Linked DNA regions of Homo sapiens. The protein of the gene in region 2 purifies or fractionates together with the protein of the main gene of each other region. This does not show direct contact. Each region holds a gene or a part of one and is shown on either strand. Other genes may lie near its edges.

Evidence for each region. Proteins that work in one complex are often made in the same cells at the same time.
Region 1: the proteins of INPP5A (region 2) and NEU3 fractionate together in Homo sapiens (co-fractionation; one large-scale study listed by BioGRID). This does not show direct contact.

The regions. Positions count from the first base shown.
Region 1 is NC_000011.10:74,991,933-74,995,432, reverse strand, and holds part of NEU3 (sialidase-3), read right to left. Parts: intron 925-3,500; coding exon 713-924; coding exon of another isoform or gene 506-712; exon of another isoform or gene 395-505; intron 1-394. UniProt on the Homo sapiens protein: Exo-alpha-sialidase that catalyzes the hydrolytic cleavage of the terminal sialic acid (N-acetylneuraminic acid, Neu5Ac) of a glycan moiety in the catabolism of glycolipids, glycoproteins and oligosacharides.
Region 2 is NC_000010.11:132,781,384-132,783,980, forward strand, and holds the end of INPP5A (inositol polyphosphate-5-phosphatase A), read left to right. Parts: intron 1-477; coding exon 478-558; 3' UTR 559-565; intron 566-653; 3' UTR 654-2,097; downstream 2,098-2,597. UniProt on the Homo sapiens protein: Phosphatase that specifically hydrolyzes the 5-phosphate of inositol 1,4,5-trisphosphate to inositol 1,4-bisphosphate, and inositol 1,3,4,5-tetrasphosphate to inositol 1,3,4-trisphosphate. Plays a crucial role in the survival of cerebellar Purkinje cells.

The sequences.
Region 1 (3,500 bases), on a different chromosome or scaffold from region 2:
CCTTCTTTCCTCACTAAAAATACAGTCAAAATGTTCTACTGAAGAGGAAGGGCTCTAACTCCAGTTCTCCCACTTATTAGACGCGTGACCAAAGCAAATGACCTTAATTCTCAGGCCTGGTTGCCTCCTGCAAAATGGGGATAATAAAATATACCTCACATACAGCATTTAGTAGTAGAAGCGTGGTTATTACTGGTATCCCCCTGTCACCTGCTAAATGTGGTCCTGAGCAAGTTACTTACCTCTTGGAGCACTAGGATCTCTCATCAGCAAAACTGGACTACCAATGCTTACTTCCCTGGGTGATTTATGAGGATTAAATGGAATATAAATGAAAGGCACATCATACGTTAGCTGAATCTAAATAACTGTGGAGGTCTCTGGAGTCAGCGACTGAGTTTGAAACCAGCTTCTACTGCTTTATTATAGCTGTATAACCTTGAGCAAATGGCAACCTCTCTGAGTCTCAGTTTCCTTGTCTGTAAAATATGACTGAAAACAGTACCTACGACACAGAATGGCTGTGAGGACCCAATGTGCCCCTGGCACACAATAAGCACTCAGTGAGAGCCATTGTTTTTGCTGTTTTTTCTGCCTCTGCTCCCCACACAGGGCTTTCCTGTACTGATGAGAAAAGGCACAGATCCTGAAGAGCTCTGAGCTTTGTGAAGAGAAACTGAGGCCCAGACTCAGATCTGGGATGAAGAGTCACCTGTACCAACTGCCCAATCCTCAACCCTCGCCTCAGCACCAGGTGGAGAGCATCCTCATCTCTCCTCGTAGAACGCTTCTCTGCAAAGGCCAGGAAGGTGTGGGTGGGGGGTATGTAGAGCAGGGCTGGGATCCGGTAGGTAATCCCTCTGTCATCTTCCTGCCGGAACAGAGGGCTGTTGAAGGAGCATGTTGTCACTTCTTCCATGACCTCTGCAAGGATAGAAGGAAGCTTAATGTGTGTCCATACCCAGATGCTGGCCTGCATATAAATTCTGCTTCATCATTTCACTTCTGGAGAGCAAAGGTGGGGGGGCACAGATATATTCAAATGTTTCTTTATACAAGAATAACATATGCTCTCAATAGCACAAAGCAAGCAATATACATTCTTGTTTAACAAATGAGAATTTCATTAACTCCAGACCCTGTGGGAATTCTATGTGGCCTGTATCAAGTATGTATCTTGGAGCAGAGCGGTTTTGCATTTGTTTTTGCCAAGCATCCAGGGGTATTACCAGCCTGAGGTGGTTTTTATTATCAACTTCTTGGCTTGGAGTTTCTAGGCCATTTGGGTATCTGTATGAGTGAATGCCTATGGTTAAGAATTTTCTGGGAAAACTTTTTTTCTGTACGAAAGCCTAGGATAAAAGGCAATCTCTTTGTCTTCTATCTGTGTCAGTAGGGAGAATTTTTTTTTTTCCTAGTAGATCTGGTTTGATATTTGTCCCCTCTAAAACTCATGTTGAAACTTAATCCCTGATATGGCAGTGTTGAGAGGTGGGGCCTCTAAGAGATGATAGGGTTATAAGGGCTCTGTCCTCATGAATGGATGAATGGATGAATGGGTTATCATGGGAGTGCATTAGGGGCTTTATAAGAGGAAAACTAGAGATCTGAGCTAGCATAATCAGCCCCCTTGCCATGTGATGCCCTATGCCACCTCCAGACTCTGCAGAGTCCCCACCAGCAAGAAAGCCCTCACCAGATGTGGCCTCTGGACCTTGGATTTCTCGGACTCCATAACTGCAAGAAATTTCTTTTCTTTATAAGTTACCCAGTTTCACGTATTCTGTTATAAGCAACAGAAAGTGAATTAAGATACTAGTCCACCCTATCAGAAGGTATACACCCTACACAGGGTGCAGATTTTCAAGGGACCTAGCTTCATGTGAGTATTTCACATGCCATCCTCTGTCAAAAACTAGAGTCTAACCAGGCCGGGCGTGGTGGCTCACACCTGTAATCCCAGCACTTTGGGAGGCCAAGGTGGGCGGATCACGAGGTCAGGAGATCGAGACCATCCTGGCTAACATGGTGAAACCCCATCTCTACTAAAAATACAAAAAAATTAGCCGGGTGTGCTGGCAGGCACCTGTGGTCCCAGCTACTCAGGAGGCTGAGGCAGGAGAATGGTGTGAACCCAGGAGGCAGAGCTTGCAGTGAGCTGAGATTGCCCCACTGCACTCCAGCCTGGGAGACGGAGCAAGACTCCATCTCAAAAACAAAAACAAAAAAACACCAACAACGACAACAAAAAACCCACTAGAGTCTAACCCATGCGGACCTATAGCTTCATTTGGTATAACAACAGGCCTATTAAAGTCCAAGTTTCTAGGTGAGACATCCAGTGCAGCTGAGGGCAGATTAAGGAGCTAACCACTCTGGTTTTCAGTTCACTCTTGGTTTCTAGGTCCCTGGAGATTTCTCTTACTTTCTTGCAAATTCAGCTATAAAGGGCTTTGTTATTTTTTTTCTTTTGAGACGGAGTTTTGCTCTTGTTGCCCAGGCTTGAGTGCAATGGTGTGAGCTCGGCTCACTGCAACCTCCACCTCCTGGGTTCAAGCAACTCCCCTGCTTCAGCCTCCCAAGTAGCTGGGATTGCAAGCGCCCGCCAGCACGCCCAGCTAATTTTTTGTATTTTTAGCAGAGACGGGTTTCACCATGTTGGCCAGGCTGGTCTCCAACTCCTGACCTCAGGTGATCCACCCACCTTGGCCTCCCAAAGTGCTGGTATTACAGGCATGAGCCACCGTGCCCGGCCGGCTTTGTTATATTTTACCCACCATTTTACAGGTTGGCTACCCTGCCATAATGCTCACAATGGAGTCTCCAAGTATTCTTCTTAAAGAAAACCAGGTGTTCCACTTCTCAGAGGTCCAAAAGGGGAATCAAGCCAGACAGACAAAAAGCAGCCTTAGAATTACTTTTTCCTCAAACCAACTGTCATCCAAACCCAATTTTACAAATCATTTGTAAATATTATCAGGCTGTAAGAACAATTGATTCAATAAATATTTCTAGGTTCCTCCTCTGTGTCAGGCCCTAAAATAGATGCTGAGAAGACAGAGAAGGATCAGAGGTTCCTGCTCTCAAGAAACCCAATCCAAGTGAGGGAAACAGACATATACATGGACAATTATAACATGATGTAATAAGTGCTACTTTAGAGGTAAACACAACAGCAAGTAGAAAAACACAAAAGTGGCATCTATCCAGATCAAGGCACCAGAGAAGGATTTTTGGAGAGAATGATTGAGCCAAAAGAACTCCTGCCTCATATAGTCACAGGCTCTGCCTGGAACACTCGTTTCAGATAGCCACATAACGCTCCCTCACCTTCTTCAGCTCTGCTCAAACATCATCCAATCAGGAAGGTTTCTCTGTCAACTCCTTTGCCCCAGCCTATCTTCTTTCCTTGTTCTATTCTCCACACCACTTATCACACTTTGATGCCTCCTATGTTACATTTGTTTAATACATACCACAAAATGGAAGCTCCAGAAACA
Region 2 (2,597 bases):
AGAGTGTGCACAGGAGACAGATCAAATCTCATTTTCAGCCAATAAATGAGTTAGCTTCTTCCACGTTGGAGGCCCAGAGCTGTGAGCCCCAAACACACCCGGATAAGACGCTGGACCTGCCAGGTGCGGCAGAGCCGAGGACGGGAGAGCCTTCCTTCCCCGCTTCATTTGGGGCCTATTTAGCCATTCTTTTACATCAGTTTTTCCATTAATTTTTTTACCTGGAAATAACACCTTCCTTGCAAAACCTCTCATGGCCGGCCTGGCTCCAGTTCCACATTCACGGGGCCCCCAACCCCTGCGCTGCCGTGGCTGTGCACAAGGGCCGAGCTGCCTCTGCTGGCCATCAGCTCCTCCCAGCCCGGTTCATGGCTGCCCTGGTGAGACGCAGGGTCTGGGGGTGCAACGGGAGGCGGCGGCATGTGCTGTGCTGTCCCGCGTGCGCCGTGCTGACACCGTCCTCTCTTCCTGCTGCAGCCCGTGTTCCTGGCCTTCCGAATCATGCCCGGGGCAGGTAAACCTCATGCCCATGTGCACAAGTGTTGTGTCGTGCAGTGACGTGGTGGTAAATATGACTCCTCCCTCCAGTTCAGCTTTTACGCAGCTTTTCCTGGTGCGTTTGTTCCTTTAACAAATTACGAATTCCGTGACAGGGAAGAGATGCCAGCGCCACGAGAGGACACTTCGTGAGCCTCCCTGTAGCCGTGGACCGAATACGCACTCTTGAAAGCTGCATCGAGAACCCGCCCAAGCGCCACCTGCTAGACGGCCAGCCCCACACTTCGCTTCAGCCTCCGGACCATTCCGGAGCAGCCTCACATACCTCACTGTCTCGTCTGTCTATGTGACATTAAGTAGAAATATTGGTTTTTTTTTTTTTTTTTTAAATAAGTCACAGTCCTGTTGTCAAAACTCTAATAGACAGCAAAGAGGGTCTGTACCGTAGACTTCACAGTTTTCAGTTTTTAATGATTGCCAGTGGAGGGGCTTCTTCAGCACAGAGACCCCCCACTGTGTCCAGGGACCCCCTCTGCCAGGTGGAGGTGTGTCCAGGGGCTGGGGAAGCCGAGACGGGCACTCCCTCTGCCGGCCGGCAGCGTGGCCCTGAGCATGGCAAGGGGGTCTGTCTCTGCCGATGCTCCTTCCGCGGCACTGACTCTGCGCCGTGTCACATGGTTTTTGAATCACACTGCAGCTGCTTTCCATTTTTATATATATATAAATATATATAAATATATACTTTTTAAAAATAATTTATAAATCTTACCAAAACTTATGCTAAATATACTTTCCAGTATGAACGCACAGGAGAGTCCCATCAGCAGGCGGCATTGGAGTCTAGGAGCTCAGCTGTGTGTCCATCAACACACAAATTCGTAAAAAACACACATGGCCTCGCCATCGTGGGTAAAATCGGCCCCACAGCACGTCTGCACCAGCGGGCCGTTACTCCCATGCCGTTCTTCTGTGTAATATTAAGAACTGAATGTGAAGTTTATAGCTAGCCTGGGTGTACCTTTTAAGAATTTTGTAAACCGTTTGTCTGTCTTTTGTTACTGTTTTATGGTGCCAAGTATCCTACGTTACAACAATAATATCATGGGAGAAATAGAAATAGCCTAGTTTGCTTCCAATAGAAACTGCTTTTAACATGGGCTGTATATAAAAATATTAAAGAGAAACAAAACTGTACATTTCCTCATTGCTCCGCTACAGACAACCCATGTCATAACCTTGTTGCAAATATTTTTCTCCTATAGCAGTAAGTACAGCATTAGAAGGTGATTAGAGAGTCTGTTGATGAAACACAAATGTATGTTTTATTGATTTTACTTTAGAACACTACAGAGTTCCTGGACCGGGTGAAGGCATTAGCTGGGTGTTTGTGTGGGATAAATACTACCACTGCAAGTGACTGCTGTCCGCTGCGGAATCTGTTCTTGGTGGAAGCACAGGTCCGTGTCGCTGCTGTGGTTGCCGCTGTCCGCGGTTCAACACGGAGTCCGCCCCGCGGGTTTCAGCTGTTGGTCGTTCTGAGGGGCCTTTGGAAGTGACCGGTCTGGTTCCTAAGCAATAAAATTGACCGTGGTGAAAATAGTCCCGTGTTGCTTTTTCTTCCTTTCCCTTCTCCTGCCACCTTTGAAATGCTAACTCAGGGGAGCGGCCTCCTGTATAGCCTGTTATTTGAGATCAAGCTCATTAGAAATCCTGGAATTTCACTGTATCACACGCTGTCACAAAACACTAAGCCGTTCATTGAGAGGAGAAACACAGCCTTTTGGACTTTCTACTGTAATAAAGGATTTATCCCTCAACATTTTAAAACGGGATTATATCAACGCTTTGCCTTCCTCAAAACTTTAAGAAGCCCCTCTGCTCTGAGCTGAGAGGGGCTCCCCACAGAAAAGCGTTGCTTCTGCCCTTCGAGTTGCTTCCTTGTAAAGAAGGCTGCTAAGAGCCTAAAACAAAACGCGCCGAGTTTAAGCCCTTTCTATTTCCCTTTAACGCTTCCGCAAATGCCAAGAGAAATCGTACCACCGCAGTGATATCATTATTTACATTTAATTTTTAAAAATTAAAACTCAACAGCCACGCCC